Homo sapiens: one gene and its partners. The protein of the gene in region 3 interacts with the protein of the main gene of each other region in a pairwise test. Each region holds a gene or a part of one and is shown on either strand. Other genes may lie near its edges.

The links.
Region 1: the proteins of ZNF572 (region 3) and CCDC136 interact in binary tests that used the Homo sapiens proteins (3 or more experiments, as listed by UniProt).
Region 2: the proteins of ZNF572 (region 3) and CEP57L1 interact in binary tests that used the Homo sapiens proteins (3 or more experiments, as listed by UniProt).
Region 4: the proteins of ZNF572 (region 3) and BEGAIN interact in binary tests that used the Homo sapiens proteins (3 or more experiments, as listed by UniProt).

Annotation. Positions count from the first base shown.
Region 1 is NC_000007.14:128,808,933-128,815,967, forward strand, and holds part of CCDC136 (coiled-coil domain-containing protein 136), read left to right. Parts: intron 1-517; coding exon 518-712; intron 713-1,206; coding exon 1,207-1,434; intron 1,435-2,329; coding exon of another isoform or gene 2,330-2,420; intron 2,421-2,867; coding exon 2,868-3,380; intron 3,381-3,775; coding exon 3,776-3,997; intron 3,998-5,705; coding exon 5,706-5,987; intron 5,988-6,681; coding exon 6,682-6,999; intron 7,000-7,035. UniProt on the Homo sapiens protein: May play a role in acrosome formation in spermatogenesis and in fertilization.
Region 2 is NC_000006.12:109,140,491-109,147,525, forward strand, and holds part of CEP57L1 (centrosomal protein CEP57L1), read left to right. Parts: exon of another isoform or gene 1-185; intron 186-4,728; 5' UTR 4,729-4,731; coding exon 4,732-4,891; intron 4,892-6,267; coding exon 6,268-6,447; intron 6,448-7,035. UniProt on the Homo sapiens protein: Centrosomal protein which may be required for microtubule attachment to centrosomes.
Region 3 is NC_000008.11:124,976,272-124,979,901, forward strand, and holds the end of ZNF572 (zinc finger protein 572), read left to right. Parts: intron 1-76; coding exon 77-1,587; 3' UTR 1,588-3,118; downstream 3,119-3,630. UniProt on the Homo sapiens protein: May be involved in transcriptional regulation.
Region 4 is NC_000014.9:100,563,408-100,570,442, forward strand, and holds part of BEGAIN (brain-enriched guanylate kinase-associated protein), read right to left. Parts: intron 6,386-7,035; exon of another isoform or gene 5,740-6,385; intron 5,571-5,739; exon of another isoform or gene 5,516-5,570; coding exon of another isoform or gene 5,492-5,515; exon of another isoform or gene 5,284-5,491; intron 5,087-5,283; exon of another isoform or gene 5,059-5,086; coding exon of another isoform or gene 5,038-5,058; intron 4,895-5,037; exon of another isoform or gene 4,533-4,894; coding exon 4,504-4,532; intron 3,677-4,503; exon of another isoform or gene 3,518-3,676; intron 1-3,517. UniProt on the Homo sapiens protein: May sustain the structure of the postsynaptic density (PSD).

The DNA of each region.
Region 1 (7,035 bases), on a different chromosome or scaffold from region 3:
AACCCAAATTTACCAATAGCGCATACTTTCTAAAGATTTAAAGAGAGAATTAGGAAAGCAAAAATGGGAAAAATTAGGGTGAAATTAAGTCCTTATTTGTAAGGAGTGTAGTTGCATTAAAAAACAACTGGGGTTAATGAGAATAACAGGAGCTAAGAGTTCCCAACAGGGTGGGAATATGGTGTATAAAGGAAAGGGCCGGAGAAGAGGAAGGGGGAAATGAGAAAGGGGCATCGATAGCATTCCCCATCAAACTGCCCCCAGAAAGGAATGGTGGAAGTTTAGAGCAAGGCCAGCCACCAGTCTAGAGCAACCTGCTCTGAAGGAGCAGCCTGCAGGGGATCCCCAATCGGTATCTAAACAGCCAGAATGCATTGTGGCTTGGGGTGACCAGTCCAAGGTGACTGCACAGGGAGAGGATCACAAGAGGCAGGAGAGCGCAGAAGTGCTCTGTTAGCCACCCAAGAAGCTTACCTTACAGAGTAACCACCCCCTCCACACCCGCCCCCACCCACAGTGTGACACACTGCTGTCCAGACTGACAGAATTGCAGGAAAAGTACAAGGCCAGCCAGAAGGAGATGGGGCAGCTGCAGATGGAGCAGTGTGAGCTCCTGGAGGATCAGAGGAGGATGCAGGAGGAGCAGGGCCAGCTGCAGGAAGAGCTGCACAGGCTCACACTGCCACTGCCAAAGAGTGGCCTCTTACTCAAGGTAACTCTGCCACAGGCAGCTGCTAACTGCGGGGAAGCTGCTCTGAGAAGCTTCCCTGTGTGACTAGGGAAAAATAAAAGGGTGGGGATTGAACTTTTTCTCTTACCAACCACTCCTTACTTTCTCACCACTCTCCCCAAACCAAAAAGCTCCATAGAGCCAATTAGAGTTTTTCTTATAAGGGCTTTAAATCTTAAAATACCTTTTATACTCAGGAATCTGTGCAGCAGTTTATATTTAGGTATTTAGTCCATCTGGAGAAAATGCACCTGAAGCCACTTTGTAAACTACAAAATATATCCCAACACAAGAGACCACTGCCACTTTTAGCAGGTCTCCATAGAAGGGCTCCCCCGTCCCCAGATGGGCTCTGTGAAGTCAACCCTGAGATTCTTCAGGGAATTGTTCACAACGGGGATGAGGCACCAAGGAGGCATCAGACTTCCTGTGTGACCACCACCATCCCTTGCCTCCTTCCTTCTACTCCGCCTCAGAGTCAGGAGCTACTCACCAAGTTAGAAGACCTGTGTGAGCTGCAGCTGCTCTACCAAGGCATGCAGGAGGAACAGAAGAAGCTGATACAGAACCAAGACTGTGTATTAAAAGAACAATTAGAGATCCACGAAGAGCTGCGACGTTTCAAAGAGTCTCATTTCCAGGAAGTGTTGGAGAATCCCGATGATTCCAAATTGGCTAAGTCCTCCAAATGTAATCGAAACAAGGTAACCATAGCAAGAGGTAGGGAGACAGTTCTCCTGAGCACAACAGCATGGCAGAGAGAGTGGGCACCGCCGAAGGGTCAGAGTTGGGAAGGCGTGTTTGGCCAGGGGTAAGGATAAGGCAAAAGCCCTGCCTTTCACCAGCTGTGACCACTCACAGGCTCCATTAAGAGGTGGCTTTTAGATACGGCCTGAGGACCTCACCTAGATGCCATTATCCTTTATCACACTGATATTCACAGTGCCCAGTTGAAGCACTATGAGCACTCAGGGCAGAGCTGGGATGACCAGAAGTCTGTCATCAGATCATTCGACTCATTCCCAGTAAGATGTATAATATCAGTTTGGTGTTTGTTTGGATTCCTTTGGACTGACTCTAAATGTCATCTTTTTCTTGAGTGGAAAAGTACACTTCTCAGTTATCAAAATCTATCACCTTTGGTGTTCTCTATGAGGCAAATTTGGGGCCTTTCATTTCCAAGAGAAGAATTCCTAGCATATGGGGTTCTTAGTACTGACCACACTATCTTCATTGGAACTTTGGTGGCAGTAACAGAGCAAGGTCACAGGGGTTAGACCAGAAAATTGATGCCTCTCAAGTACCAGCAAGAGGTCATTCAGATGAGGTGACACAGGTGGAGATCACCATACAATTCTCTTCAGGGTTGGGGGATAAAGTTGTTCTGAGGTCTCAGCGTGGGCAAGGAGGGGCAGGTAGACAGTTTCGGTTTAGGCCAAATCTATTCATTCAGATCTTATTCTGAACAAGGAGAACCAGGGAGTAGCAGAAGTCAACACTGTGAGGCTGGATCATATTCCAGGGGCATCAGATGTCCAGGCTGGAGGCCTGGGTAACACAGCTGGGAACCAGGTATAAAATATTTCCTTAACTGATCAGATCTCATCCTGGACATCAGCAGCCAAGAAGCCAGGCCCAACATGCCCAGAGGCCAGATTCAGAATTGGGGCAGGAGATACAGGAACTAATAGTAAGACTTTGATTCCAATTCTTCATATTGCCGCATTCAAGGCCGGGGCTGATTTTAGAACTAGGGGTGGGCGAGGGGACTGAGCCTGAAGGTCAGGATAACAGGTATACCTGACTGAGAAGAGGGTGTGGTAGGGAGCCAGGGTGTTCTGGAAACCCACTCGGCACTGCTCCAAGGAGACAGGGATGTACCAAAGTGCAGAAACCAGCCGAAATGGGAGCCCGGAAATCATGGAGTATCTGCCCTGGGGAGATTTTCCCAAATGAGCAAGAAACTGATACATGCCAGTTACCTATAGGCTAAGTCAGAGACATAGGCCGGGGTGAGGTGGAAATGTAGGTGTGCCATTCTCTAAGGTGTGCTCTCAGACATCTGTACCAGGAGAGGTGCAGCTGGAAGGACTGAAGTGTCAGAGTAATGATACTGTCTCCCCACCCCTGCCCCCAGCAATCCAAGCTGCTCATGGAGCAGATGCAGGCCCTGCAGGTGATGTATGACGCCGGTCAGGCGAAGCAGGAGCTCTTGCAGCAAGAGCAAGGGAGGCTCCTAGAGGAGCGGAAGAGGCTGCAGGCAGACTTGCAGCTCTGCCTGGAAGAAATGCAGCTGCTTCAAGTCCAGTCCCCTTCTATAAAAATGAGCCTTGAGTCCTACGGGAAGAGCTATGGTAGCATGGTCCCCAGCAATGAGAACTGTCGCAAGACTTATGATACCACTGTGGATGACAATGAGAGCTATTACAAGAGTTACACCAGCACCCAGACCAGCAGCAAGAGCTTTCTCAAGAGCTATGACAGCAGCACCAGTGCCAGTGAGGCCTATGGGAAGAGTTACTGCACTACCAGCAACAGCAGCATTACCTATAAGAAGAGTTACGGCAGCACCAGTAGCTCTGACACCTGCCAGAAGAGTTTTGTCAGCAGCTGCACTGACGAGGAACCTGCTGAGCCTGAAGACATGGAGGTAATGGTTGCCAGGTGACAGGTCAGGCAGGGGACGATGGACTCTTGTCTTTTTAAGAGATACATCGCCAGGGGAAGGGGCAAGAAGTGTGGGAATGGGGTCAGAACTGACCTGGGGAACTATTGGAAGTAAGCGAAGCCCTCTACCCATGGCAGCCTGGTCTCCCGCTCAGCCCTCTCATAGAGAGAATCCCCCATCTGGACAGAGGCCCATAAGATTCAGTCCGTTTCCTCACCACAGCCACGATGCTCTTTATGGGGGTAAATATAGTAATCCCCCGCGGGCATCTCTGGATCCTGGTGGCCATTGTTTGGTATCCAGGGAAGGGCCCAGCAGAGTAGGGCGGAGCTTAGGTGCTCCTCAGGGTGCTATTGTTGCTCCCCCACCCCCCGCAGCGCTTTGAGGAAATGGTTGTGAAAGTGCTGATCAAGCTGCAGGCGGTGCAGGCCATGTACCAGATAAGCCAGGAGGAACACAGCCAGCTGCAAGAGCAGATGGAAAAGTTACTGGCCAAGCAGAAAGACCTGAAGGAAGAGCTGGATGCCTGTGAAAGGGAGTTCAAGGAGTGCATGGAATGCCTTGAAAAGCCCATGGCCCCCCAGAACGACAAGAATGAGGTAACCACTGTCAGGGAGGCAGGGTTTCCTCTGGCAGCCCCTGGAGCCATAGAGGTCATGGCCACTTCATAGAGGCTAAAGAGAGGGACAAAGCAGGGAGAATATGCACCTCAGAGGCTGGGCAGTCTGCTCCATCCCTGATGACATTTCCCAAGTGCCCGTGGAGCTGGGGTTTACTAGTCATCAGGACTTCTCTCATCGAATGATTTCTCTCTTTCTCCCTTTGCCACTTCTGTTCTCTTTTGCTTTGTGTTCTAGACCACTTCTGTAGAACTGTATTTTTGCATTTGCCAATCTTCTTTCATCATTTTGTGTGCATTTGCCTTGTCTCCCGGTGCACCAACTAGGAGCACCAACTAGATTGCAAGCAGCTCAAGGACAGGGACATGTCTCCTTTTGGATCGCTCACAATGCCAAGAAGAGTGCTCTGCACCCCCTAGGAATGGGACAGAAGTCTTGTCTCTGGCCAGGGGTTCACGGTCCAGTGGGGGTCTCTTTGTATACACACGGGAGAGATTCAGAGAGCAGCGAACACATGGGTCCAGATTGGCTAGTATTGGTACCTACTGAGGGGATGGTTGTGTGCTGCCATCAGCCAAGGAAGACAAAACCCGAGATCAGGGAGCAGGATGTGACTTGCCTCTGTTTCCAGGGTGAGGTGCAGGAGCCCAGTACACACTTCAGGAGTGTACAACACAGTTCTTTAAGTAATTGTTCCTGTTAGAGAGATGGGTTGGATGAAGTAGGAGTTCCCATAAAAAGAATTCTAGGCCAGGTGCGGTGGCTCACCCCTGTAATCTCAGCACTTTGGGAGGCCGAGGCGGGTGGATCACTTGAGGTCAGGAGTTTGAGACCAGCCTGGCCAACTTGGAGAAACCCCATCTCTACTAAAAATACACAAAATTAGCTGGGCATGGTGGCGCATGCCTGTAATGCCAGCTACTCAAGAGGCTGAGGCAGGAAAACCGCTTGAATCCAGGAGGCGGAGGTTGCGGTGAGCCAAGATCATGCCATTGCACTCCAGCCTGGGCAACAAGAGTGAAACTCTTGTCTCAAAAAAAAGAATTATATAATAAATCCCTGAGGTTCAGAATTGGTAGCAGCCCTATTGTTATTCCCCAGTCACAGTAGAAAACACCATTTAAATCATTGTTTTGACCTTCTTTTTTTTTTTTGAGACAGAGTCTTGCTCTGTCACCAGGCTGGAGTGCAGTGGCACGATCTCAGCTTCCTGCAACCTCCGCCTCCTGGGTTCAAGTGATTCTCCTGTTTCAGCTTCCCAAGTTTCTGGGACTACAGGCGCGCTCCAATAAGCCCAGCGAATGTTTGTATTTTTAGTAGACATGGGGTTTCACCATGTTGGCCAGGCTGGTCTCGAACTCCTGACCTCAAGTGATCTGCCCACCTCAGCCTCTTGAAGTGCTGGGATTACACTGGATGGCAAGTGAGCCGCTGCGCCCTGCCGTTTTTTTCATCTTATTAGATGGACATCATCAGGTGCCTCAAGTTAGGAGAAGCTATTTGTAAAACTATTTGAGAGGCTCATTTTCCACCGTTGAATATTTTCTTTATTGTCTACTTCCTATGGGCTTTAACAGGGAGATTTCTGAGACAGTGACCCCCAAGCAGGGCTGAGTTTGGTTGCGTGGTCAGCCAACTGGTTGCATAACCAGCCAACTCTGGGTAACTGGCCCTCCACTACCAACAGATCAAAGAACTGCAGACCAAGCTGCGGGAGCTGCAGCTGCAATACCAGGCTAGCATGGATGAGCAGGGGCGGCTTCTGGTAGTGCAGGAGCAGCTGGAGGGGCAGCTGCAGTGCTGCCAGGAGGAGCTCCGCCAGCTCAGGGAGAAGAGGCCTTCTGTTGTCAAAGAAGCCCGGGGGAAGAATGCTAATAAGAACATGAACAAGAATGCCAATGGGGTTAAAATGAAAAAGGTGACCAAGCCATGCTCGGATACTTCTGAGAGCGACCTTGAGACCAGAAAGGTGAGTAGTAACCTTGGTAGCCAGATAAGCAGAAAGGAGGAGGAGATCCTGGGAAGAAGCATTGCCTCCACAACCCTTTCAACCAGGCAAGGGATTTGTAGAGAAGCTTCTGGGATCTCTGAAGTGTCTACAGTGGTTCCCATCTTAATGGAAAGTGGGTGCTCCCTTTTCCTGTGAAGTTATGGGGAGAGTGGAACACAGACAACTCACATCGGGAGGTGCAGCCCCAAAGGACCACAGCCCCTAGGCTGGACAACTCCTTCAGTTTGCCCAGCCCCATTTGTTGGGGCTCCTGTTCTTCCTGGGTTACATGCCCAAGAGAAGAACCAAATAGATGAAGAGGGAGGAATTTGTTCAAAGTAGTTATGTACTAATAAGTGAAAGAGGATTGGGTAAAAGAAGAGTCACTGTAGGGGTGGGAAGCAACAATTTAGGTGCAGAGCCCAAGACTCTTTAGTTGTGGTAGCTGTTTGAAATGGCTTAATGGCCAACAGACATAGTGGCCCTGAGAGGTGAGGTGTGATGCCCTCTACATATGCTCAGGGGATTGGCTCACAGTCCCAGAGCACCGGGCCACACCCTTGCACTCTGACATGCTGGAAGTCATGTTTCCTGGAGCTAGTACAGCATTGTCATGAGATTAGGAGCTTCACAGGTAACGCAGCCGCCATCCTGCCCTACTCCCACCCCACAGAGTCTGGAGGTAGTGCTGTACTACAAGGCCAGCCAGAGGAAATTAGATGGACTAGCAAAAGAGGAGGAAAAGAAAGAGGAGATGGAGGAGGAAAAAAAGCAAGTGAAAGAGGAAGCAAAGGAGCAGTGTGGGGATGAGCTAGTTGCTGAGCCAGCAGATCCTGAGGAAGCTAAATCCACAGAAGATCAGGAGGAAAATGAAGAGGACAAAGAGGAAGAGGAGAAGGAAGAAGACAGTGAAGAGGAGGAGGATGACGCCGACTCTTCCCTTGAAAGTCCCGAAGAAAATAACCCCCTCAGACTTTCCGAGAGCAAAAAGGTAACCAGAGCCAAAGCCTAGATCAAGTGGGAAGTG
Region 2 (7,035 bases), on a different chromosome or scaffold from region 3:
CCGAGTTCAAGTGATTCTCCTGCCTCAGCCACCCGAGTAGCTGGGTCTACAGGTGTGCGCCACCATGCCTGGCTAATTTTTGTATTTTTAAGAGAGACGGGGTTTCACCATGCTGGCCAGGCTGGTCTCGAACTCCTGACCTCGTGATCCGCCTGCCTCAGCCCCTCAAAGTGCTAGGATTAGAGGTGAGCCACCGCGCCCGGCCTTATATGTTGTATTAATTTTAACAGAGCTTTTGTATCTTTTCCTTTATTTTTCTGTTACTTTTAAACATAGAATATCTTACCTATTCTAAGGTTATTTAATATTCACTGATTTCTTAAAATAATTTTTAGAGTTTTTTATTTATTTATTTATTTAGATGGATTCTCGCTCTGTTGCCCAGGCTGGAGTGCAGCGGTGCGATCTCGGCTCACTGCAAGCTCCGCCTCCCGGGTTGACGCCATTCTCCTGCCTCAGCCTCCTGAGTAGCTGGGACTACGGGCGCCCACCACCACACCCGGCTAATTTTTTGTGTTTTTAGTAGAGATGAGGTTTCACCATGTTGGCCAAGATGGTCTCGATCTCCTGACCTCGTAATCCGCCCGCCTCGGCCTCCCAAAGTGCTGGGATTACAGACATGAGCCACCGCGCCCAGCTGCGTTTTCTTTATTTGACTCTGTAGCTATCTGAAATTTGTATTGATGTATGGGGCAAGATGAAGCCTTAAATGGATTTTTTCCCCATTTTTTTCTTTTGTTTTTGAGACACAGTCTCACATTGTTGCCTGTGCTAGTGTGTAGTGGCGCAATCTCGGCTCACTGCAGCCTCCACCTCCCAGGTTCAAGTGATTCTTCTGCCTCAGCCTCCCAAGTAGCTAGGATTACAGGCATCCACCACCACGCCTGGCTAATTTTTTGTATTTTTAGTAGTGACAGGGTTTCACTGTTGGCCAGGTTGGTCTCGAACTCCTGACCTCATGATCCGCCCACCTCTCCCTCCCAAAGTGTTTCCCCAATTTTTCTAACATCATTTATTGGATGATCAACAAATGAATAGCTGAATCCCATTGAAGTATTTATGTTACATTCGTGTATTTACTAGTTTCTATTGACCAGTTTTTATTGTCACATCTTAACATTTTGGTGATTTTATATTATAAATAATACATTATATAATTATTATGGGATATCTATAAGTAAGTTCCACCACCACAAATTATCTTATTCAGTTATAATAAGATAATAATAAGATATAATAAGTTATAGTACTTCCTAAAGTACTATACATTAAAAAATAAAAGAGTTAGTCCAGCCTTACTGTGTTTGCTCTTAAGGTAAGTTAGCATAGATGCATACATAAAGAAAAAAACAGATCAAAGAAACTGAGCTGTTGATCCTTCTTCAGTTTCTCTAAGGAAAAATCCAAACTTGGAAGAAGTAGCAGTTACAGCAAACAGAGATTCCTTTATTTCAAAAGTCTTCTATAGTATCTCTGACTGCCCCCTAATGTCGTCTCCCTAGCAGTCCTATGGAATAAGTGTTTTCCTCTATAAAAAGTAAAAATGCTTTGCAGTAAAGTGTTTGTGTCTAGAGCATTCTTTTTAGGGGGATAGTTTTTTTATGCAATGGGTTCTTAGTTGCAGCCAATTGGGGTATCTTAATTTTATAAACCATAAAAACAGTGAGTAATTTCCCTGGTTGTTCACAAGCTGTCAAGAATGGTTTCAGGAAAACCAACCCAAATGCCCATCAATGATAGACTAGATAAAGAAAATGTGGTACATATATTCCATGGAATACTATGCAGCCATAAAAAGGAATGAGATCATGTCCTTGGCAGAGACATGGATGGAGCTGGAAGCCATCATCCTTGGCAACCTAACACAGGAACAGAAAACCAAACACTGCATGTTCTCACTCATAAGTGGGAGTTGAACATTGAGAACACCTGGACACAGAGAGGGGAACAACATACACCAGGGCCTGTGGGTGGTAAGGGGAGGGAACTTAGAGGACGAGTCAATAGGTGCAGCAAACTAATATGGCACATGTATACCTATGTAACAAACCTGCACGTTCTGCACATGTATTCCATTTTTTGTTTGTTTGTTGTTAGAATAAATAAAGAAAAAATAAATAAAAATTTTAAGAAAAAAAAAAAAGGTACAACTTGAGTTTCTCAGGCTTGATACAAATGAGGTTCACATTTTATAGCCTTTTGCCCTTACTTGAAGACACCTATAAAATGTTCCATAAGAATTCCTGAGGTCTTTTCAGTTACCAACAGCTAGCTAAGTCTGGTATCAGAAATACCGGAATCCTAGAGATTGTGATTTAGGTACTTCTCTGTATTTTCAGAAATTTTTCCCTAGAAATATTTCTCATATGTGCCCATGAATGTATCCCTTCCATCTGTGCTCTCTCTGTTTCTCTGTTGCTCTCTCGCTTTCTCACTCTTGTTCACTGTCTCTCTTGCTCTCTCTCTCTCTCTCTCTCTCTCTCTCTCTCTCTCTCTCTCTCTCTCTCTCTCTCTCACTGAATACTACTAACTGATGCACCAGAAAGGGGCCAAAACTGTGTTAGCAATCTGACTCCCCCTCCATTGTCATGTAACATCTTACACAAAGCAGGGAAGCTAATGCCTTGATATTTTATAGAGATATTGGTGAAACATTTCTCAGTTTTTATTTAAACTCTCTCTCTTTTTAGAACCCACATATGAGTCCATGGCACTAGGTCAGAGATAAATTAGAATGACCACCATCATAGTCTACTCAGAATCACTCCTCCTTTCCTTAGTCATTTAAGGCTTTTATTTTGGATCAAGCCTTTTGTAGTTACTTCACCTTCTTTCAGAGTGAGTTTTTCTCCCAGGATGCTTCAGTGCTTTATATAAATAAGCTTCCAGTAGGCTTATGCACTTGTTTACAACACAGGACCAGATTATAAAGGTTAAGCTGAGATCCCATTACAATGAGAATCTCTGAGCTCTGTGTCACAACATAACTTGTCCTCTCATCTCTTTACTGTTTTCTTTCTTTTTCTTCATCTTGTTTTTATCCTATCAGTGGATTATTCTGCTTGTGCCCACTTTAATATGTGTCTACACATTTAATTTAAATAAACTGTAGTCTACTTTTTAACTTACTGGCAATCTTCTAACTAGTCATTATTTCATATACATTAAAAACCTCAAATTTGGACCAGTTTTTTAACTGGTACAAAATCCGGTTTGTGAAATAATATTATACTTAGGTCAGAGGAAGCAGAGACCTCCCAAGGACTTCAGTGTGTAGTGACAAATAGCAAAATTTCATTCTTTATGTCATTGGAGAAACCCACCCGGAGCTGAAAACTAAGTCAGATTTCTTGAGTAGCTCCAGTATTCTTGGGATAGCTTTAACAACTTACCTCTCTCTGAAGATGTACAACCATCTTCAGGATTTACGTACTTTAGGGCCTTACCTCCACTTTATAGTGAGCCAGCTGTGACTAATGTTGATCTCTTGTTTTTTGAGGGAACAACAACTTAGATAGATGCGGTATCCCATGGGGAGCAGGCAGTGTCTGAGATAGCTGGTACTAATCACAATAGCAAAATATGGTTACCTTGCAAGAACAAAAAGCATCAAGTATCTTAGCAAACCTTAGGCTTTATAGCCTCTAATTTAGACCAATCAGAATGTTCTAGGAGATTGCCAATCATGGCAATGGCTAAAGTAGAAAATTCTAGGAAGTGAAGTGTGCCTTCTGCCCTTCCAGAAAATACTATCCTGGGAAGTGCCTGCCTTTGCCTTGTGAATTGAGGAGGTGGTGAAATCATGGAAAATGTACAACTCTCAAAAATCAAAATAGGCTAATGTTATAGTGTAATTCTTGGATTTCCATTTTGAAGCAAGCTTTCTTGCTTAAAATTCTTCCAGTGAGTTATTTTTTTGTAAGCAGTTATCACCTTATGTGATTATGAATTAATTTAATTAACATTGACTGGAATCTATTAAAAAATAGAATACATTTCTAAAATATTTAAATTGCAGAAAGGAAAATAAAATTATTTGGAAATTTTAGACCAAAAATTACCTGCTTAAATGGTTAAAAGGGCTCTCTTACCAAAACAAAAACAACAACAAAATAAAAACCAGACTAACAAAACTAAGTAGTCTAGATTCTTCAGATTTGGAAACTTTCTAATCTAGATGATTAAAATGCTAATACATTAAGCAGAGGTGTGTCTTATTCAAAGGTTAAATTCCGATATTTCATATATCCAAAATTACCCTTGAAAATCCCTTAGGAAGCCATACATTAGAATTCAACAATCAGTATTAGAGAATCAGTGTATATTGTTGGTTTGTGTTTAAAAGCTCAGTTATCTTTTAGAATATGTACTTTCTCTTTAAATCCTAGAGTCACACTGCTTATAGAGAAGTGCTCAGACTATGATAGGTATATGGGATTTATGGGTAACTGAGAAACCAGTAAATTCAAATCACTCATGTGATGCTTACTCCAGGGTATATGATTATTGAAAATCAGGCAGAATTGTCAGTACTGCTTACACAAGAAATAGTAACTTTTCTTTCTTTTATTGCCAAGCCTATTAGAGTTGAATTTATAATTAAGTTCATAAAGATACAACTCCACAGTATATGATTATGTTTTTAAAGTTTCACCTGAATTTTTGTATAATGCATTTACCCTTAAAATAGGAAAGCATGATACTATATCATTCCTTTATTCTCTACAGATAATGGATTCTGAATTAATGCATAGTATAGTAGGAAGCTATCATAAACCTCCAGAAAGAGTATTTGTTCCCTCATTCACCCAGAATGAACCATCTCAGAATTGCCATCCTGCAAACTTAGAAGTTACCTCTCCTAAGATACTTCATAGCCCAAATAGCCAAGGTAATGCTGATATAAAATTTGAAGAATGGTAAAAACATGCTATAAAAAACTTTTCATATTTATGTGGAATACAATATGATTGCATATTTAATCTTAACAAAACTCCTAACTTTGATTCTGTTGCTAAAAGTTTCTATGAACTTAGACAAATTACTTGACATTTTTTATTTTGGCTTCTTCAGCCATAAAATGAAGATTAATACAACCAGCTGGACACATATCACAGAGTTATCATAAAAACATCATTTGAAAACAGGAAAATACTCTTTGAAGAATAAAAGGTCAGATTTGGAATACTAAACTAGATGATTAGAATGTTAGTGAATTAAATGGAATTGCATCTTATTCAAGAATTAGATTCAGAAATTACATATATCCAAAATTATTCTTGAAAATATTTTAGGAAGCCAGTATATCAGAGTAACTACAAAATACTAGTATTTTAACGTTTAAAATAGAAATGTAGGAGGATCTTAAAATTGAATTAGGAAAACATTTTATTACTCCAGGCATATTTTAAGCTGTGCAAATTCTTTTCTGAGATGCTGATATCACCTACTTTTAAAATCTTCTATAATAATGGTTGCTGTTAATAAATAAACTAGTTTTGTGGAATAAACTATAAGAAATAATAATGCAAATCAATGTGCCAGCTACAGATATCATGTAAAGAGGAATAAATATAATTTATTTATCTCATTTATAAAAACAAAATGGTAATCTCTAGCAAGCATCTTTCTAATTTGATATAAACTATATGACAGTTAAAACTCTGAACTTATCTGAAGCATGAAGATATTAATATAGTTGAATATAAGTCACAGTAGTATAGAATACTATTATCTTTCAGGTCTGACATCAGGTAAACCATTAGGTTATAATTATCCTGGTTCTTAATACTGCATCATGGACAAAGAAACAGTAAATATGTGTGATTTGACTAAAACGGAATACCTCAAGAACTGAGAAAAAAAGCCTATAACTTTAAACCTAAATTGCCATGTTAATTAGTAGAAATTATATTTTAATGTTCTTATTCATATTTATACTCTTATGCTCCCCAGACTGTACATTGTCTTTAAGTCCTTTCATTTGTAAATATTTTATTAAATTAAAATTGTGGTTATTACCTTTCTCAGTCTTAGAAACCACTAAATACAATAATAGATATAGTGTTTTTACAAGATATATTAGAGAGAAAATGTGCGCCTCTTCAAAGTGTTAGTCATTATTTTTCATTTTTTGAAGAATATGCATTACTTGTACATTTTTCTGGCTCAGTAACAAAAATATACTGCTTATTTTTCTTATGTTACTTTGATTGTAAGTGTTCAGAAACTTTCACTTAAAATATCAACAAAATTTTTTTTCAACAGCTCTTATTTTAGCCTTAAAAACTCTTCAGGAAAAAATTCATCGTTTAGAGCTGGAGAGAACACAAGCTGAAGATAACCTGAACATTCTTTCCAGAGAAGCAGCACAGTATAAGAAGGCCTTAGAGAATGAAACAAATGAGAGAAATCTGGCACACCAGGAGCTGATAAAGCAGAAAAAAGGTAAGAAATGCAGTAGTTCTCAGAAACCGGGGGTTACTGGAGTTTACAGTTCAAAAATAATAAACCTAGTCTAAGCCGATGTACTCAGATATCTTTATTCTTATATATATTCAAACTTCATGACTTTGTTCTCAGACCTTTTGATATTTGTGAGAAAAAGATACAGTTTTGAACTTACCTCTATCATATCTTACTTATCATAATTCATAAATTCTAGAAATTAAAGGAAAAATTAAGATTTTAGACAAGTTGTGTTTAAAAATTAGAATATTTTCAGAATAGCCAACAAACTCCAATTTAACCCGTAATTGAATATTTATTTTTTATTTTATTTATTTGTATTTGCAGTTAACACTAAACTTTAGAATTTGAAATACAGAACAACACTAGTAATTAAACAATGTAAAACCAATAAAAATGAATACAAAAGAATTTTATTTAATGAGAGGAAAGCAAGGTTAATTAGAAGACATAGGCAAATGGGGGAGGCTTCTGTGGAAATTATGAAAAATTTTAGAAATTTAGAACATAAGTCTTTTAAGTAATTTCACTTCAAAACTTAAGACTTTCTTTTTCCTTTTTACACTA
Region 3 (3,630 bases):
TCTTCCACTGCAATTTAGAATTTACTTCTCTGGCAGAGATTTGGAATATGGTTAGAATATTTGTTTATTCTTGCAGGAGATACAAGTATGAATAATTTGGAAACTGTTCACCACAATAATTCTAAGGCAGATAAACTTAAAGAGAAACCTTCAGAATGGTCTAAAAGACATAGACCACAACATTATAAGCATGAGGATGCAAAAGAAATGCCACTGACATGGGTTCAAGATGAGATTTGGTGTCATGATTCCTATGAGAGTGATGGCAAGTCAGAGAATTGGGGAAATTTTATAGCTAAAGAGGAGGAAAAACCCAATCACCAGGAATGGGACTCAGGAGAACATACCAATGCCTGTGTCCAGCAGAATTCATCCTTTGTAGACAGACCCTATAAATGTTCCGAATGTTGGAAAAGCTTCAGTAATAGTTCTCATTTGCGTACTCACCAGAGGACCCACTCAGGAGAAAAGCCTTATAAATGCTCTGAGTGTGCAAAATGTTTTTGTAACAGTTCTCACCTGATTCAGCATCTAAGAATGCACACAGGAGAGAAGCCCTACCAGTGTGGTGAATGTGGGAAAAGCTTCAGCAATACCTCCCATCTTATTATCCATGAGAGAACTCACACGGGAGAGAAACCCTACAAATGTCCCGAGTGTGGGAAGAGATTCAGCAGCAGCTCTCACCTTATTCAGCATCACAGATCACATACAGGTGAAAAACCATATGAATGTTCTGTCTGCGGAAAAGGCTTCAGTCACAGCTATGTCCTAATAGAACATCAGAGGACTCACACTGGAGAAAAACCTTATAAGTGCCCTGATTGTGGGAAGAGTTTTAGTCAGAGTTCCAGCCTCATTCGCCACCAGCGGACACACACAGGTGAGAAGCCCTACAAATGTCTTGAGTGTGAAAAAAGCTTTGGTTGTAATTCTACTCTAATAAAACATCAGAGAATACATACAGGAGAAAAGCCTTATCAATGTCCAGAATGTGGGAAGAATTTTAGTCGTAGTTCAAACCTTATTACACACCAGAAAATGCACACAGGAGAGAAATCCTATGAAAGTTCTGAATATGAGGAAAGTTTGGGTCAGAACTGCAATGTGATAGAAGAATGCAGAATCCAGTTAGGAGAGAAACCATATAGATGTTGTGAATGTGGGAAGAGTTTTGGCCTTAGCTCCCATCTCATTAGACATCAGAGAACACATACAGGAGAAAAACCTTACAGATGTTCTGAGTGCTGGAAAACTTTCAGTCAGAGTTCCACCCTGGTGATTCACCAAAGGACACATACAGGAGAGAAACCTTATAAATGTCCTGATTGTGGTGAAAGCTTCAGTCAGAGCTTTAACCTTATCAGGCACCGGAGGACCCACATAGGGGAAAAACCTTACAAATGTACCAGCTGTGAGAAATGCTTCAGCAGAAGTGCCTACCTCAGTCAGCATCGGAAAATTCACGTAGAAAAGCCTTTTGAGTCTCCCGACGTTGGGGATTTTCCTCATGAATGGACTTGGAAAAACTGTTCAGGGGAAATGCCCTTCATCTCTTCATTTTCCGTCTCAAATTCATCTTCCTGAGTCCCAAAGCCTGGTTGGTGATGGTTTTTTCTTCCTTGTTGGACCATGACAATTTAGGTATTCTGTGATTGTTGTGCTATAAAGTTTCTTTGATGTGTTTGTCAAAACATTTGGAAAAAGTCAACCTCCCAGTTTAAAGGATGGGAAGACCCCAATCACCAGGTTATTGGATCTGTCCAGTGAGAGATTCATCCACCAAGGATGAAGAAAGGAGGACTTTTAAAAATTTAAGGTAAGATAGTAATAGCTTCAAAAGAACACATACAGAGTAATCCTGAGAGTAAGCAAAGGAACCATGAGAACCGAAGCTAGAATTGCTATTGAATTACTTTATTTTCTCTTCCCTTATTGGGTAGAGATACATCATTACTGGCCTCAGGGGTTTACCCAAAGAAAGGGTATTTTTGAGCAAATAATGTGATTTCCTGGCTATTTTGTTGGGGGCTTAAGATTTTTTTTTTTCAAATGCATTTTTAGTCACTAAAAATTAACTGTCGTACCATCTAGAACTATACTGTCCAGTACCATAGCCTCTAGCCGTATGTAGCTATTTGTATTAAGATTAATTGAAATTTTAAATCCAGTTCCTCAGTCACACTAGCCACTTTCTAAGTGCTCAGTAGCTCTGTGTGACCAGCGGCTACTGTATTGGATATTATAGAAGGTTCTTTCATTCAAGATCATCATTCTTGACAGACCCATAAATATTTCCTATAAAGACTGTAGAAGTGTGTTCTGGAGGGTTTGCTCTCCAAAAAGAATTGTAATATAGAGTAGAATTGGGATAGAGTATTGAAGACACTGGGTTTAGACATTGGATATTTTAATGATTGTGTGTTCTAATTCATGTGCTGCCAACTGAGTTATCTAGTGATATGACCTCACTGTCTTGACCAAAGCCAGAATAGAAGGCAGGATTCCTGAATTCTATCTTAAAATTTGCAATGAAGAGCCTTTTCCCTAAATTATCCCATTATGTAATTCTTGGTCAGCTCAAGAACTGGGTTCTTTTTCTAATAATTAACTCACTAAATCTGAGCCAGTGTCCAAGGACAGTTTGTCATTAAGGAGTACTGAGACTTCTTAGCTTTGGTACTGACAGTTTTCTTTTGCCTCTTGACATAATTGGTATATGGATCTGATAACTGAGGTCCCATCTTCCCTACTCATTCCTATGGGAATGATGCTTTGGAAATTATTAGATATATCCTATTCCCTTCCTCCCATTTTTTTCCTGCTAGTGCAAAAGGTAGATGAGTAGGAAGATTAGGACTCCTGAGTTGCCCATGATTTCATCTAATTTTTGGATTCAGAATGTATTTTATGAATAATATGCAGAGATGCATATTAGGAATGTGAAGCCAGAATGGGTCAGTTGTAGCTGCTGCAAAGTTCTGTAGCTGATGGTCATTTAATTGCATGGGGGTTATTTTATCTTTCATGATTGTGGTGCACCTGATGCTGGCGGGGTATTTGTGTGTTTTTGTATTGTTATTTGATTACAAAAATAAAGCAAAAACTAACAAATAAAGGTATTGGAGAATTTGGGGGAAATTTTCTGCTTTCAAAAAAGGGGGAAAACATTAGGCATTATTGGCTTTTTATTTTTATTTTTTTCTTATTCATTATTATTATTTTTTTTTTTGAGACGGAGTCTCACTCTGTCGCCCAGGCTGGAGTGCAGTAGTGCGATCTTGGCTCACTGCAAGCTCTGCCTCCCGGGTTCATGCCATTCTCCTGCCTCAGCCTCCCGAGTAGCTGGGACTACAGGTGCCTGCCACCACGCCTAGCTAATTTTTTGTGTTTTTAGTAGAGATGGGGTTTCACCGTGTTAGCCAGGATGGTCTCGATCTCCTGACCTCATGATCCAGCTGCCTTGGCCTCCCAAAGTGTTGGGATTACAGGCGTGAGCCACTGCGCCCGGCCCTTATTAATTGTTTAAGAGATAAGGTCTCACACTGTCACCCAGACTGTAGTGCACTAGCACCATCATAGCTGACTGCACCCTCAGACCCCTGGGCTCAAGGGATCTTCCCATCTCCG
Region 4 (7,035 bases), on a different chromosome or scaffold from region 3:
AATTAAGAACTTTTGTTCATAGAAGGACCGTGTGAACAGCGAGACGCGGCGTCCCCCAGGAGGTGTGGCTGCTGCATGTGTAACTGACAGTGTGAAGAGCTCCCACAAATCAATGGGAAAAACACCTTGGTAGAAAATGCGCACGGCCTTCGCCGGTGAGGAAACCCAGCGGGCAGCAAACCAGGGCAGCCCACCCCAACAACGCTGGAGGGACAGTGATGGGGAGAAGCGGTTTCAAGAGTCTGTTCCGATCTTCCAGAGCTGACCCTATGCGCACCCTGTGCCCCGGAGGTTCCACTGAGGGTGCACACCCAGAATCGCAGCCCACATCCCCAGACACCCGCACAGGAGTTTCCTAAGGTGGCCCAGGCTGCACAGTGCCCGGCAGTCTGCCAGGGAACAAACGGATTTCAGGGAAGCCACCATGACAACAGCAACTGGTAGCTCCACCTACCACCACAAGGGACCCTCACAAACAGAATAGTTTTGGTGAAAAAAAGCCACCCCCAAAACACAGGCTGAAGGAATCCAGGTATGAGGTCCCAAAGCAGGCAACATACAACCATCTCTGCTGGGGATGCCCTCTCAGGTGGCAGAACCACGAGGACAGCAAGGAACCACTGAGCACAAGGTCGGTGTCCCGGTGACTGCTTGGAGTAGGATGGGGCTGTCTGTGGGGAAGGGTCTCGGGGGATCTTAGGGGCTGGCCGGGAGCAGGATGGGGCTGTCTGTGGGGAAGGGTCTCGGGGGATCTCGGGGGTTGGCCATGTTGAACTCCTTGACACAGGTGGTGGTCGCCAGGTGGTCGTTCTAAACTTAACCACTGAACTGTGCGGATATTTATTAATGTCTCTGCAGGCCTATCACAGTTCACGACTTTGAAAAATTCTATTTTGGGGGGAAAACGTGGACACCAAACAGGAGTAGCTCTGGGCACCCCAGGAGCCATGAGAGGCGACTGACCCACTTCTCTGTTTGACAGAGGAGGGAACCGAAGCTCAAATAGAAAAAGGGGCTGCCCAGCAGCACGCTGCAGGAGGCAGGCAGGAGGGACCCTGTTTGGAGGGAGAGGAGGGGATTAATTTGAGGGATTAGAGGCACAGAGGCTCTGAGCACACGGAGAGCCAGCCGGGACTTGGTAATATCTATAAATATTTGAGAGTCACAAGAATAGTTTTTCCAAGCAGTCGAAGACAAGATAGCTGAGTGTGGCTGAGCAAGGGTCAAAGGACAAGAGCCAAGGTGGCCAGGCCATCAAATGGTGTGGCTGCATATCTACCATGTGGCCCCCCGGCCTGTGGGAGCCCTACTGTGCGCCAGCCTCTGCCAGGCACTGTGGCTGTCAGAACACCAGGGGCCAGACCCCGGCTCTGTTCTCTGGGGTGCCCATCTGGGGCCCTGGGGAAGACAGAAGACACCCCAGATGTCAGTGGGAGCCCCACTGACCTCCACTCCCCACCCCTTACCTGTCTTCCCTAAACACATCTGCTCTGGGCAGCCCCCAGGCCTTTGCACCTCTTGGAGGGTGGCCTGTCTGTCCTTGGAAACTCCTACCCATTCTTCATGCCTTGGCTCAAGTGTCCCTGCTTCCCGGAAGCTCTTCCCAATACCCCAGGCCAGGGTTCACAACCTGGGACCCCAGAGCATTGTGGGCAAACCCCTTCTGTATTCTGTCCGCTGGCCTAGGAGGATCTGTTGTGGGCCTCTGTCCCCGGCACTGGAGGGCCAACCGGGTCTTTTCACAGAGCTGGTACCCAGAGGGGGCTGGAGTCCACTTGGGAGGGAGGGGCAAGAGCGTCATGAAAACCCCAGGGAAAAGGCGACAGGGAAGACACAGAGTTTGTCATGTGGACAAGAAGGCAGGGAAGGGCATTCTCTACAGCAGGGACTGCGTGGGCAAAGGCAGGGGCATGAAGGTGGCAGCTTGTGGGGAACTCGGAAGCAGGGCGACAGCATGGGGGGGCAGCCAGTGGGAGGGACCAGGGAAGAGAGACCCCTCAATGTACACCTGCCCACCAAAGGGAGCCATTGAGGGCCACAGTGCCACCAGGTGACATGGTCCTTTTGCTCTTCAGCAAATATTTACAGGACTGTCCCATAAGTCAGTCCTGGCTCCAGGCCCTGGGGGGTGTGGGAGAGGAGGGGGCCAGGACCAGCACTCTCAGAGCTCAATCCAGACCCACAGACCCAGCCTGTGATGTGCAGACTCCACAGTCCAGGGGCCAGGAGGCAGGACCGACCATAGGGTCATCCCTGTGGACACTTCAGGACCCCTTCACTGTGACCACCGTGTGGTCTGAGGTTCCCCAGAGACCCTCTACCTGGGCCTGCTCTGGGCCAGGTCCCAGGAGAGATGCTTCCACCACAGGGGCTCACGGCACCCAACATCCCTGCAACCTGGTTGTGGTTAGGACACCCACTTTACAGATGAGAAAACTGAGGCCCAACCAGGGCCAGGACTTTGTCAGTGACTGGGTCTGTGGGACCCCAAACCCTGTGCCCTTCTGTGCAGGAAGCCATGCTGACCAACTTCCCTTCCACTCCCCTGGGCTTTTGGTTCTGAATCCCAGGCACCAAATGCAGGACAGAAACCCACTGGGGCAGCCCCGACACTGGCCAGAAGGGAAGATTCTGGAAAAGCCCTTCAGGCAACTCTGAGAACACTAATTGGGTGAGAGGGAGAGGAGGGCAGGACCCCTCCCCAGTTCTAGGAGTCCTTGCCCCACGCCACCCCTGGCAACTCCAGAAAGGCCACATGGCCCGATGCAGCCCAGGAGCCCAGGCCCTGGCCACTGCCTCCAGCCTTTATGGCTTAGCCCAGGGAAGCCTCAGCCCGCCTGGGACAGCAACGCTGACGCCATCAGCAGCTCAGGCAGCAGATCCGCCCACCTGGCACACCTGCCTACCTGTGCACCCAGCCGGGCGGGGTCATGCCTCTGTCCTCAGTGCCTGGCACACAGGAATAGGTGCCGGAGAGCCTTGGCCGGGCACAGGGAAGGAGGGAAAGAGAAAGAGAACCACCGCAGGGAACCCCCAGGCTGGCCTCAGGGCACCCCATGAATGCTAAGTTTTTCCTCAAGTCTCAGCTGAGTTAAGCAGTGTTTCCTCCCCCCCACAGGCGGTACAACCCAGGTGGTGAAATGACAGCCAATGTGGGGCACCAGGGAAGGGCCCTGGCCTGGGCCAGAGCCTGAGTTTGGGCCTGAGGTCATCTGTGTGACCACAGCCAGGGCTGTCGCTCTTTGGGCCTCACCGCCCCCACCTGGACCTTGGCCACGACAAGGTGGGCCTGGCTGATGGGTATCAGGTATTTGGGGTCTGAGATTGAACCACCTCAGAGACTGGACCCCTCCTCCCAGCACAAGACATGTTGGTCCTGTCCCTGTGGGACCCACAGTGGGGGCTGCACATCAGCTCCATGGCCCAGGAGATGGCCCTGCTCTGAGAGTCCACCCTGGGTCTCTGTGTGAGCCCACCTGCCCCCAGGCTCCCACCTGGGTGTTTCCAAGCCACTCACCCACGGCACTAAGGGTCAGCTGGCAGAGCCCAGGGCCCCTCTGCCCTAGACCTGGGCCCAGGCTGGGCTCTGCTCCTTGGGGGAGGGATGCTCCTCTACCCGGCCTCCTCCCCAGGATGCCAATTCTGGCCTCGGGAGGGAGTGGCGAGGACGGAGACCCTGTGGGCCAGGGGAGACAGTGCTGAAACCCAGCAGCCAGAGCTGGGCCTGCCGCCCACACAACGCCTCGGCTCAGGCTCCGGAAGGAAAACACGGGAGGGGTGTTCCCAAAGTAGGGGTCAGGGTGCCAGGGGAAGTCGTGGAGGAAGTGGCAAATATTCAAACTGGCTGATCCCAGGCCTGCCGCGCAGGTGGTCCCGTGAAGTCTACCAAGGCTTAAAGTTTGGCACCGGGAGGGAGGCCGCGGGGGACACTCCCCAGAAGCTGTCGCGGGATTCCCCCAAAATGGCTCCAAGACGCGGCTGCCTGGTCCAGCCGCGAGGACTCCATCCCCCACCCCCGCCCCCCAGAGGCGGACACTTAAAAGCTCAGAGCCAGGCAACTGGCAGCCCGGGGGCTGGGGCGGGTGGTGGTTGGGGGTGGGGTGGGGTCGGGGGAGAGAGCGCCGGGGCAGTGCGGAACGGCACGAACGGAACCCGGAGGGTCCCCGGGGACCAGCGAGAGTCCAGGGCAGGGAGCCAGAGGGGCGCTGAGGACCGCACAGGACCAGGCGGCCCCGGGTAGGGGGCAGCCCGGCCCTCAGTGGCGCTAGCCCCAGCCCCCGCCGCAGCGGCCCGGGCCGGCGGAGGAGCCCCGCGCGAGGCTCCCCAGCGCCTCGCGGCGCGCACACACGCACCACACACACGCACCTGGCCCGCAGCCCCGCCGAGGCCGCCCGCGGGCCCTGGGGGATGCGCTCGGGTGGAGCCCCCTTCCCCCGCCTTCCCCAGCGCCCTCACCCCCGACCCGGCCCCCGCGAGCCGCGGCACGGGAGACGCTCCACTCACCTGAGTTTCTCCATGTCTGCGGCAGAGGCCTGCGAGAAACCAAACGAGAGGGTCAGCAGGCAGGAGGCGTGCGCTCCGCGGCCGCGCCGGGCAGAGCCGGGCACAGCGGGCACGGCCGGGCAACCCCGCGGGGCCCCGTCCGTGGGAAGCCCGGCGCCGCGCGTCCCCAGCTTCCAGTCCCGGCCGCGGCCCCCGTGACTCAGTGGGCGCGCCGGGCCGCGGCCGAGTAACAGGTGAGCCCGCCCGGGCCGCCGCGCTCCCCGCACCGAGTTACGCCCCCCGGGGCGAAGAAGGGGCCGGCCCGGGATGGCCCGGCCAGGGGCGATCTCGGCCTCGCCCGGAGGAGGGGGACTCGGCCTGTCCCCGTTAACTCTCCGGCGGCCGCGGCCCCGCTGCTCCCCCCGCCCCGCCCGTTAACCCTTCCTGCCCCGCGCTCCCTCCCGGAGGAAGCCGAACCCCGGAATCGCAGAACCTCCGAGTCGGAGAATGTTGGGGAATTCGGGGCCGTGCAGGATTGCAGAACCTGACACTCACACAATCCGAGGGCGATGGCATTTGGAGCCTCGACTCCTCAATCAGGGACCCGCTGCCCTCAGATTCTGGGGTTTTGGGCCTGGCTTGCCCCTCCCGGGCCCCAGGGATTAACCCGTGAGCGCCCGGCTCGCCGGCGGGGCTCCCTGCCTTGCTTGCGCAGACCCGCCCGCGCGCGGCTTGGAGACCCTCCCTGCCCAGCCCCGCTCAGCCGGGCAGCCCCTCCGCGCGCCGGGCAGGGGGACCCACCCGCCGCCGTTAACCTTGTGGGCGCGGGCGAGCGACGGGGACCGCGAGCGGCCCGGGCGGGATCGCACTTCCTGCGTGGAGCTGGGGGCGCCGGGCGGGCTCTCTATCACCCGGGAGAGGCCGCTCCCCGGGGCTTTGCCCGTCTTTCTGTGCCGTGACTGGCACTCAAGGGGGACAGGGGTCCGAGCTCAGGGACCACGCGACAGACCTGGGAAGACTGATGACTGCCCATCCCGGCCCCTCGCGCCGGGCGCCGCCGCCGCGTCCGCCGGGAGCGCGCTCCGCTCGGGTCCGGGCCCCACGCCGCCTCCCCCACCGCCCCGCCGGGCGAGGGCGCAGCCCGGCCGCAGCGCCAAGCTAGAAGGCCCGGCCCCGGGGCCTCGGCCAGGCTCGGCCACCAACTTCCCGGGTGCTCGGGCCGGCCTTCCGGCGCTCTCCCGGCCTCAGTTTCCTCACCTGAAAGCTGGGGGGAAGGGGGAGGCAGCTGGACGAGGCGCTCCACTGCCCTTCCGCACCCGCGGGCTGCGGATCGGCTGGGGTGGGGGAAGGAATTTCAGGGGAAGGGATCCCTAAGGCGCCCGGATGGCGGTTCCCCTCCCCAGACGCTCTAAAAGTTGTCCAAGACCACAAGCCTGGACCCCTCCATAAACCCTCCTCCTGCAAGACAAGGAGTTTGCCGGGAAGACTTTGCCGCCGGCCAGCGCGACCCCCACACCGCTCTCTTCCCCAGGCCCACCTTTCCGGGTCCCCATGACAGCGCTTCTCATGCTAGGTCCCAGCATACAGCAGGCGCTCAATAAACACGGACAGTGCATGCCTGGATCCTACGGCACTGGAGCCTGTCTTTCCTGGCCCTTTCCCCTCCTGGCTGTGAGCTCCCGGGCAGGAGCCCTGTGTTCTCACCAGGACACCCCCAGCACCCAGCAGGCTTGGCCTGCGCTGAGCCAGCGCAGGGTGGGAGGAGCCGTCCACTCAGAGGGTCAGACCTGAACCAGGATCAAACCAAACCCAAGAAATCCAAGTGTTCCTCCATCCACGGACACCCACTCGTTCACTAGCTCTGGGCTAAGTTCTCCAGCAGAGAGGGGACAGCAGACAAAGCAGAGAGGGGACAGCAGAGGAAGCAAGCTCTGCTCTCCAGGGGCTAATGAGGAAAACCCCCTCCGCCCCCCTCCGGTCCTGGGAGGCCACCCTCAGCAGAATGGCCACGGTAGTCATAACAATAACGTCCACCGCCCCTTACACATCATAGCGCTTCCCACGGCTCCTCACCACAGCTCTGCCATGGAAGCCCCGGACCCCCTATGCGGGAGCAAAGCTCCAACAGAGAAGAGGCTTGCTGGAGATCCCGCAGCTGAAGGGGCCCAGCTGCGCCTGGACCCCACTGCTCAGGAGCCTTTCCCACCCAAAGGCTGTCTCTGGTTGCCAACCTCAATCACTCACGGCGAATGACCTGCCAGGGAGTTTGTCTAAAATTAATAAGAATGTATTAAAATTTAATTTTAAAAATCTAGCATTAATTATTTACATTGAATGTTTCAGCCCTTCTAAAAGGCCTGGATGGGAATTCCCCCCACCCCCAGAAGGGAACTGGGGGGAAAGGCAGGGGAGGTTGCTGAGCTGCCCTGGTGGAGCAGTGGGGGCTGGGCAGGGCAAGAGACAGGCAGGGAACAGGCAGCCCCTGCCCTTCAAGCCTATTCTAGAGCCTGAAGCCTGGCTTTGATGCTGCTGTAGCTCAAATCCTCCTCTGAC